Linked DNA regions of Homo sapiens. The protein of the gene in region 1 interacts with the protein of each later gene in a biochemical or structural test. Each region holds a gene or a part of one and is shown in the gene's direction. Other genes may lie near its edges.

What was found. Proteins that work in one complex are often made in the same cells at the same time.
Region 2: the proteins of TLE1 (region 1) and HHEX form a complex in vitro, tested with the Homo sapiens proteins (one study listed by BioGRID).
Region 3: the proteins of TLE1 (region 1) and ESRRG form a complex in vitro, tested with the Homo sapiens proteins (one study listed by BioGRID).

Annotation. Positions count from the first base shown.
Region 1 is NC_000009.12:81,613,048-81,616,547, reverse strand, and holds part of TLE1 (transducin-like enhancer protein 1), read left to right. Parts: intron 1-413; coding exon 414-566; intron 567-3,026; coding exon 3,027-3,171; intron 3,172-3,500. UniProt on the Homo sapiens protein: Transcriptional corepressor that binds to a number of transcription factors. Inhibits NF-kappa-B-regulated gene expression. Inhibits the transcriptional activation mediated by FOXA2, and by CTNNB1 and TCF family members in Wnt signaling.
Region 2 is NC_000010.11:92,692,955-92,696,147, forward strand, and holds the end of HHEX (hematopoietically-expressed homeobox protein HHEX), read left to right. Parts: intron 1-1,592; coding exon 1,593-1,814; 3' UTR 1,815-2,693; downstream 2,694-3,193. UniProt on the Homo sapiens protein: Recognizes the DNA sequence 5'-ATTAA-3'. Transcriptional repressor. Activator of WNT-mediated transcription in conjunction with CTNNB1.
Region 3 is NC_000001.11:216,713,430-216,716,929, reverse strand, and holds part of ESRRG (estrogen-related receptor gamma), read left to right. Parts: intron 1-1,680; exon of another isoform or gene 1,681-1,856; intron 1,857-2,295; exon of another isoform or gene 2,296-2,414; intron 2,415-3,500. UniProt on the Homo sapiens protein: Orphan receptor that acts as a transcription activator in the absence of bound ligand. Binds specifically to an estrogen response element and activates reporter genes controlled by estrogen response elements.

The DNA of each region.
Region 1 (3,500 bases):
GGGGACCTCTTGCAACTTCTTACATTAAGAAGTTAATGGTTGCTCATGTATGGAGCAATAATGGTCTAACTGACATAAAGTTTTATTTCCTTTAAAAAAAGATATTTCTCTAGACATTTTGAATGCCTAAGTTGGATGTTTGGCTCCCCTTTCCTTCCAGTGCCCTCTAGGCAAAGTTCTTAAGCATGAGGCACAAAGAGGGATATGACTGCGGGGTTTTTTTTTTATGGCATGTTTGCAGGTATGTTTGCCGACACCATATTGCTCATTTATAACATGGTGTTGGTCACCTTGTACAACCCCAACCCGAAGGACTTTCAGCTCTGTCCTTAAATTTAGAGAATGAGTGTGGAAAGGGAAAAGTCTGTCTGTTACAAGCTAAATCACGAAAACTTTTGATTATGCTTGTTGAGGACCCTTCTTCTCCGCGAGCAAGCCCTGCCCACTCGCCCCGGGAAAATGGAATCGACAAAAATCGCCTGCTAAAGAAGGATGCTTCTAGCAGTCCAGCTTCCACGGCCTCCTCGGCAAGTTCCACTTCTTTGAAATCCAAAGAAATGAGCTTGGTAGGTAAAGAAAACTGACACTTGCCTGTTTGGCAGTGTATTTTTCATTGTGGACTGGAGGACTCTGAAGTATTGGAAATGTGGGGGTTTTGCTGCTTGAGGGTTGTATTTTTAAGAGTTTAATAGTGAAACTCATCCTTCTGTTCTTTGTCACCATTCAGGGTTTACTTTTTCCCCTCAGTCATCTCTTTTCGGCCATGATTAGAGGGTGTACACGCATCTGTGTTCATTGCCTTCTTCTTCTTCTTCTTCTTTTTTTTTTTTTTTTTGAGACGGAGTCTCACTCCATCATCCAGGCTAGAGTGCAGTGGTGCAGTCTCAGCTCACTGCAGCCTCTGCCTCCTGGGTTCAAGCGATTCTCCTGCCTCTGCCCCCTGAGTAGCTGGGATTACAGGCGCGCGCGACCATGCCCAGCTAATTTTTTTTTTTTTTTTTTTGTATTTTTAGTAGAGATGGGGTTTTGCCATGTTTGTCAGGCTGGTCTTGAACTCCTGACCTCTTTGATCCACCCGCCTCAGCCTCCCAAAGTGTTGGGATTACAAGCCCAGCCTCATTGCCGTCTTACTTGGGGGATATGTTCTTGCCACACAGCTCTCTGAAACTTCCCAGTTGACAAATGGTTCAAACTTCTGAGATTCTTTTTTTTTTTTTCTGAGACGGAGTCTCACTCTGTTGCCCAGGCTGGAGTGCAGTGGCGTGATCTCGGCACACTGCAACCTCCACCTCCCAGGTTCAAACAATTCTCCTGCCTCAGCCTCCCCAGTAGCTGGGATTACAGGCACTCACCACCACGCCTGGTACCACCATACATTAGAGAGGGTGTACACGCATCCATGTTCATTGCCTTCTTCTTCTTCTTCTTTTTTTTTTTTTTTTTTTTTTTTTTTTTTTTTTTTTTTTGAGATGGAGTCTCACTCTGTCACCCAGGCTGGAGTGCAGTGGTGCAATCTTGGCTTATTACAGGGTTTCATGTTGGCCATGCTGGTCTTGAACTCCTGACCTCAGGCAATCTGCCTGCCTTGGCCTCCCAAAGTGCTGGGATTACAGGTGTGAGCCACCGCACCTGGCCTCAAACTTCCGAGATTCTTAAGTCTTCATTTTCTTAGGCTGGTCATTTACCTGGTAGACTGATCCTTAATATCGGGGCATGTCATAGAGCATGCCCCGATATTATGGAGCTCGTCAGATCAGTGATGCACAAAGGAGGCCCCAGGGGAAGCCAGGAACTGGTGCATCAGAACCCACTCATGTGGTCACTCATTCAATCAAACTTTGTAGACTGCATCATCTTTTAACAATAACATTTCATAACAACCCTTCAGTTAATCCTTACCTGGTCCCGGTAGGCATTATCCCATTTTACCGGTTGGGAGGGATGAATAACTTAACAAGGCTACACAGCCGTGGCTCATGATCCAAGGTCAGAAAGAGCTCTCTTTAGCCCGTGCTCTTTGCCACGCTGTAGTGGTTCTTGGACTGTGTTGTAAAGCACATGAAAGGTTGAAAGGCCAGAGAAGGTGCCCTGTAACCCTGTTACTGTCTGGTCTCCGAAAGGCCCCTTGCTGGTGTTCAGTCTCTGATCTGCACTGGTGGGTCCACTTTGGTTATGTAGGCAAGTGGGCAGTGACTCTTAACTCCAAAGTGTTGTTCTTTTTAGGCATATTGGTAAGGTTAGCCCTGGGGCTTTTGTCTCTGAGATACTGGCCCCACTCTCTCTCACCATTTGTCTCAATCCCAGGGCTACCTAAAAAGGAGACTTGAAAAGGGGTCTTCTGGCCTGGCGCGGTGGCTCAGGCCTGTAATCCCAGCACTTTGGGAGGCCAAGGCGGGTGGATCACGAGGTCAGGAGATCGAGACCATCCTGGCTAACATGGTGAAACCCCGTCTCCACTAAAAATACAAAAAAATTAGCTGGGCATGGTGGCGGGCACCTGTAGTCCCAGCTACTCAGGAGGCAGAGGCAGGAGAATGGCGTGAACCCGGGAGGCGGAGCTTGTAGTAGGCCGAGATTGCGCCACTGCACTCCAGCTTGGGTGACAGAGTGAGACTCCATCTCAAAAAAAAAAAAAAAAAAAGAAAAGAAAAGGGGTCTTCCTTGGACTTGGCGGCCAGGACATGTGTTTCTGAGTGCCTGGGAAATATTCTCTGGGTGGTCATCTTTCTAACTTGGCGTAGACCCAAAGTCCACAAGGCTGATGGAAAATACTTTTAAAATAAAATCTGCGGAGGAAGAAGTGTGATCATGTTCTGTGTCTCTAGCTCGAGTTTTAATTCTGGCAGGAAGAGGAAAGGTCAACATTTCTCGCTCACAAGTTAATGCTGTCAACATTGTGTGGATTTATGAAAATTGGCTGAGGGAGTAGCTAGAAGGTGCCCAGTGTCCCAGCTGCTGTTGTGATAAATTGTGTAATATGGCTTGGATTAAAAATAATACTCATTTAATTTGTTTAATGACACCAGCATGAAAAAGCCAGCACGCCTGTTCTGAAATCCAGCACACCAACGCCTCGGAGCGACATGCCAACGCCGGGCACCAGCGCCACTCCAGGCCTCCGTCCAGGTCTCGGCAAGCCTCCAGCCATAGACCCCCTCGTTAACCAAGCGGGTACAGCATCGCCTCTTGTTGTGCTTTGTTTGGTTTCTCCCATTCCCAGCTTGATTTGTTGTCTGTTAATGTTGTGACGCAATTGCCCTACAAATATGAAATGTACGTAGGGCCACCCTCCTTCCTATCTCTGAAAAAGCCATGATAAGAAACAGATGTTTGTCCTGGGGTTTCAGCAGCTGCACTCTGTTCAGTCTCCAACTGTTTACATTCAGCTTTTCTTTTTTTCTTGAGACGAAGTCTCGCTCTTGTCCCCCCAGGCTGGAATGCAATGGCGTGATCTCAGCTCACTGCAACCTCTGCCTCCTGGGCTTTGAGACGAAAGTCTT
Region 2 (3,193 bases), on another chromosome or scaffold:
TATCAATTATGCTTGGGTTTTCACACACTGGCTAGTAAAACTCCCAGCTAATTGTTTTATAAATCCCATATGTTGTTTATCTAATTAACGCAGGAAAGATAAAGTAATTGACAGTAAATGACTTAAGCAGTTATCTTTGGGAGAAAATTGTTTCTTTTATTTACACAGCCATAATAAAACCAGGCAGAACTCAAGGGTAAATATAAAGAAACAAACACCTTTAAGTCTTGTTTGCACTGTTTTTTAGAAGAATTAAATGTCAGGGAGTTTAAAAATTATTTTCTATCTAATGCCAGCTCTTAAAATGAAATATAAAACTTGTAAGAAAATATTCAAGCCTGTTTGGAAAGTAGCTTAAACTTTCTGACAGTCTTTCTTCCAGTGACCTTGTTTCGCAATATGTGATAAAAAGTAAAGGCTAATTTAGTTTTTAAAAGAAGGTCTATTGACTTAAAGCTAAACATTCATTTTTGATGTCCTAATCTGGATATACTCTCCAAAGTTATCTGATAATTGCTGAATTGTTCACTTGTCATTGTATATACGGTTTATAATAAATACTTTGAAACAATGAGTGGAGAAATTTAAAGCAAAGTGGATTTTAAAATTTATTGATCATTACTTTTTCATTAAAAAGAAAGTGTCCCAAAGAATATTTTGAAATAGAAAATAAAATTCCCATAACTTCATTACTGTAATGTGATTTAAATATTTGCAGATCCACTCTCAATTTCTGACCGTGTGCATCTATTTGTTGAGACTATAAGGCTTGCAACTATATAACAAATAGATGTTGTAATATTTCTATGTAGTATTTATATGCATTTTAGACAAGTATAGGATTAAAAATTCACTAGCTTATATACTTAATAGTTCTTGGTCAAAGGCTTGACTCTAGTTTACCAGAGACCTTAAAAATAGTGGTTTCTATGTAATATGGGGATATTTCCCAGAAATTTGCCCCAGATTTTAAGTAAATTGTAGCTAATTGTCTACCTTCTCAGTTGGCAGCATTCTTCCAGATCCACATTTTTTTTCTTTGCCATGATTTTGTAACTTGTTAAACATTTACACATGTAGATGTTTATAAATTTACTCCAGAAAATGAATGAAAAAAGATCCAGTCTAATAATTGAAACTTTATTCTTAATTCACCAGTTAGCATTCTTATTTTTAAAATGTCTGAAAGACTGTTAATTGGCAAGGTTTAAATATTTAAAGAATGAAGTTAAGGTGTATCTGTAGTGATCTGATTTTCTTTCCCCCTTAAACTTTTGAGAATATTGAAACCATGGGTCTGGGCTGGTGTTAAGTAACCAGAATTTGTGTTCAATTGGTATAATGTATCTGCCCTTATGTTCATGACTGGTTCTCATCTTTTAAGCATATAATCTTTGATATGACAGAAACTTTTCTTCCAAAGTGAGCAAAAAGCACAAGTATGTATCTCCTGAATAAGATTATAAACTGAAAACACTCAGTAAACTAAAAATTAAAAGATGGAATAGGATGAAGAGACATTTTGATTTATTCCTCTCACCTATCCATATTTTATGATCCTTCCAATCTCCATTTTCATTTCCTTTATTCAGGAGAACCCTCAAAGCAATAAAAAAGAAGAACTGGAAAGTTTGGACAGTTCCTGTGATCAGAGGCAAGATTTGCCCAGTGAACAGAATAAAGGTGCTTCTTTGGATAGCTCTCAATGTTCGCCCTCCCCTGCCTCCCAGGAAGACCTTGAATCAGAGATTTCAGAGGATTCTGATCAGGAAGTGGACATTGAGGGCGATAAAAGCTATTTTAATGCTGGATGATGACCACTGGCATTGGCATGTTCAGAAAACTGGATTTAGGAATAATGTTTTGCTACAGAAAATCTTCATAGAAGAACTGGAAGGCTATATAAGAAAGGGAATCAATTCTCTGGTATTCTGGAAACCTAAAAATATTTGGTGCACTGCTCAATTAACAAACCTACATGGAGACCTTAATTTTGACTTAACAAATAGTTTATGTACTGCTCTTAGGTTGTTTTGATAAAGTGACATTATAGTGATTAAATTCTTCCCCCTTTAAAAAAACAGTTAGTGGTTTTCACTATTTATAAAAAATTAATTTTGAACTTTTTGTTAAATTTTTAAGTTATAGCTTTAAAGGTTTTAATAGGACCTTCTTGAACGACTTTTCTGTAATCTGTTTATCTCCCACTTAATGGAAAGGCAAAGGGGTACCCCAAATCCAGAGGTGCCTACATTTCAGGCAGCCTTGGAGTATTTTAAAAGGAAAACATTCTTTACTTTTATATGACATTCTTATACTGCTGTCTCAAATCCAAAAACATTTCAGAGCTCTTGTCTCAGAGATGTGTGTTCTTTTTGTCAGAGATATGGTTGATGAGAATCTTAAATGCTTGTTTTGCACTATCACTTAGTACCTGTTTGACCAAGGTGTTAAGGGGATAGTACCTCCCAATTCAAGCAGAGAAACTGACCTGACTAAAGTTAATCGCAGATGAACTAGAAGTCACAGGTTAATTAAATGTAAGTAGATTGTAGATACTGTTTTATATCAAACAATGTTTATAATGTGTATATAGAATTGTTCACTGTAAAAAAAATGGCCAAAATGTGTTTTTTTTTTAATAAGTAACTTGACTATAAAATAAAGCCGTCCGTGGGACGACTGACCTCGTTGCAAGTCTAATTCTTTGATTTTAAAAAGTCTGCACACCTTTTCTTGACCTCCTGGGTGCTTGGCGCGGTGCTGGGCTCTGGGGACAGGAAGTGACTGGGGCTGGATCTTGCTGGGGCTCTCGTTCCGAGTCCCAGGACCGCGGGTGGGTGCCTGGAACGTGGGTTGGGGCCTCTCCCGGGCCGTTTGCCTTGGGGCTCTGCTCCTGCCGGCGGATTCTGAGCCTGATGGGTTCGAGTCCCGGGCACGCCAGGCGACGGGAAGAGCCGAGGCCCAGGCCCGCTGCGCCGTGAAGCGCGGGGCCGTCCGGACCCCATCGATTCTCCTCGGCAGCCGGGCTGGCCCTCGCCGTCCTTGACCGGCTGAGTCAACACCGCGTCATCCCTCGGCGGCCGGGGCTCGGGAACCCGCTCCGCGCGGCGGGGCCCGGGGTGGGGAAGTCCGAGTGGGGGGATGGGGGGCCCTGGCCGAGGGGAGCGGGGAGGTGGTTTGCGCTGAGAAC
Region 3 (3,500 bases), on another chromosome or scaffold:
TCAGTTAAAGTCCATTTCAGTATACTGGCAAAGATCTATATGTGCATTTGAATGTAGCTATAAACCACGCAACACTAACAATTAGAAATACAACCTATGGCTATATGGAATTCTTTCAAACAATATAGAAAAGGAAAACACTTGGTTTTGGCATTTAAAAAATTTTAAATACCTATTAAATTGCCAAAACTTACAGGGAGCCTACTTCAGATTAGATTAAATTCTAAAAGAAGAACTGAAAAGTACATTTATATTTTAATTATAAAAAACAGTCTTTGTCATATATATTCCTCTGTGACTTCTCATTTTTCTTTGAGTGAAACAAAATTTCATATATACTTTTCATCATTTTGGTTGGAAGTACACATTATGTGTAATATGCTTTGGCAGGACTTACCTAGCCAAAGAAAACAAATTAATATTGGGCATACTGAGGGCTGTCAGGCATATCACAGACATGTCAATTTAACTTTGCTTCATTATACACCTTTTCTGCAAACAGTTGGCTAAGATGGTACTAAATAAAAGGGAAGCTACCAATAAATTCTCATATCAGATTGATGGCTAGTATAAATGTAATGAAAAAACAGCTTGCTTGCTTACTTATCTTTAAAAATGAACTGTAGGAATACAGATAGCATAGATAGCAATAAGTTTCCAAGAAAAAAATAAATTAGGTTCATTCAAATTTTTCTACTACCTTGAAAGTAAAATAGGTTTAGAAAGACAAAAGTCTCTGAAGTGGTGAACCTCAGTGGCTCTTATTTATGAAGTAAATAAAAACTTGAAGAAGTGGAGAATCCAAAGGAACACGGACAATCCACCTTTATCAGGGGACACCTCTTTTTGTTGCACTTTGCATATGTTTTCTGGAAAACAAAAAAATCTTACGCTTTCTTTTTGTATGGCATATTCAATATGCAAAAACAAAAGAAAATTAAAATATAAATTAAGAACTTATGTACAGAAAATAGGCAGAAGCACACTAAATTCTTTTTTTCCATGATCACAACAATACCTTTGTAAATGATAATTCCTTTTTCATCTACTCTAGAAAGATTTTACTCATTTTTCATGGCTTTTGAGAATTTGAACAAAGGATTCATTAAAGAAATATGTATTTTTTTCATACTCACAATGTGAGTTAAAATATCTTAAAAGGATACTTTTCAAGGCAGTTATTATGTAACAATATTTATAAGAACTTATGTTGCTTTGAAAATAATAGTAAATGCATATTAGTCATATATCCAGAACTGCATCCAAAATTAACCAAAATAACAGGTCATATAAAAAATTATAGACTGAGGTACTCATTAAAGAGAAAAAAAATAAACTGTGAGGTTGTTCAATTGATTGCCCTTTGCCCTCCATAATTCCAAATTATCCTAGTACATTAACTTCTCCAAAAATGTAAGATGGGCATGTTAAATTGTATTCATTTTCACATAAATAAAAGAATATTCTGATAATTTTTAATTTCTTTTCAGCCATTAATCCATTAAAACAGATCAGATATTTTGAGGAGGAATATCATACCCGTAACCAACTGTTCATGACCAAAGAAAGGGAAAGATGTATATGGTTGGTGAGAACCATGTCTTTTTCCTATGAGAAAGTGACTGTATACAGTTGGTGCTGGGTCCTATGAAATGACGGAAACATCCCTTTTATCCATAGACTTGAATGAGACCTGCCTCATCAGTCATGGGATCATAGTGTCACAGATGGAAAAGCAACTATCAGCTGAATTGTACTGAACTACACACTTGGCTAATTCATCTTATTGCTCTACACATCTAAAGGAAGGCTCATTCTGTTCTTGGAGTCTAGACAGCATCAGGAGTTGGGCTCAGGTGGGAGCATGTGGCCGCCTTTTTCTGTTCTCTCGTAGTCATTCAGCAAAGGGAGGTGAGGAACAAATGGACAATTTATGCACAGAAGCTCAGGCAGAGATTCTTTCCTAGGGTCAGGAATTTGTTGTTACTCAGTCATTCAAGTAGATTTCCGATTTCTCTTATGCTCTAGAAATGTCATTGTTATCTTTCATGCTCCAAAGTACTACCCGTAAATGATTAGGTGTGTCTTTCAATTCGTATGAGCCATGACCTAGTTTAAGCATTTTTTAATAGATAGAAATGGAGAACAGATCATCTATTTACATTAATGTGAATGATGATTCTTTTTTCATGTCTTTATATTGAACTATTCAGTTGGTTAAGTCTGAAGAATAAGACAAATAATAAGAGGTTAAAAACTCAAATTGTATTTTTTTATTTCTTTATTTTCTTATAGTGAACAAAACTTTAATGTCTAGAGCATTTATGAGGGTTTTAATGATTGGAAAATCTATCCTGAGAATGTGGTCACCATATGTGACAGCCTTGCTTTCTATCTTGTCTTCAGTTTCTGGGGTAAGTTCGGTGATATTGTCTATTGTCTTCCTTTGCTTACATTATAGAACTTCTCTGCTGCCACATTGAGATAACCTGAAGTGTGGGGGGAATGCCTGCTAAGTTCTAAAACACTTTCCTAAACACCTTCCCTTCCTCTATCCCGGCAGTATTTTCCTTTACAATTTCTGTTTCTATTCATCTGTTTTATTAAAGGGTCATTTACTTTGGTAAAAGGTAAGTGCATGATATTCACCCATATTTGCATACAGAGTACACCTGATTTTCCCTCTGAATTCCAAAGAGATTGCCTTCAACTTTTTATATTTGTTTTTCTTTTTGTTTCTGTTTGTAGTGCATTCTAGTTGAGTGCTTTTATAGTGTTTTCTTGATTGTTGTCAGTTTGGGATACTGGAGGCTGACATTTTTGCTAAGTTAATGTTACAGCAGAAAAACCTATGGTAAACTGGAATCTGGCTATAGTGCATAGAAGATACAACTTATGTTTGATTGTGTGTAAATACAGTTAGTTAGTTGGGGGTTTATCAGATAGCTTGGCAGAAAGAGAGAGGAGCAGTACAAACTGTTTTCAGTTAACTGTGCTGTTCATACACCTGATAAGACTGAGAGAGCTTTTCGAAATGCTGATAGGCTTTGAATAAGAAAAGAATAATCACTTCTACTGGCACCAGCTTATCAGGAATGAAGTAAAATGCCAACACTGTTACATTAGCAAAAGTAAATGTTTTAGACACTCTGTGCCTTTTTTCATTCAAGTTAAATAGGAGGGGTGCTTTTGAGTGTGCTGTTATGAATAGAGGGATTTATTACCTTGATGAAATTACAGGTGAATATGTTGATAAAAGAAACTTCAGCATCAACAGCAGCTTCTTTGATAAGCAGGTGCGTCTCTGCTGTACATTCTCTGGAGAAATTAAGTACTCCTTTCTCCACTCCAATTCTATTAAACATCATTTCTGATGTTAGAAGATGCAGTTATGCCCTATGTCAATCCAGTCTCCCTCTTTTTTCAGCAGATGGGTTACAGGTATTTGAAACTTAGCTGATCAGACTTGTAAAATGCTAGTGTGCTCTGGTTAAATAAGT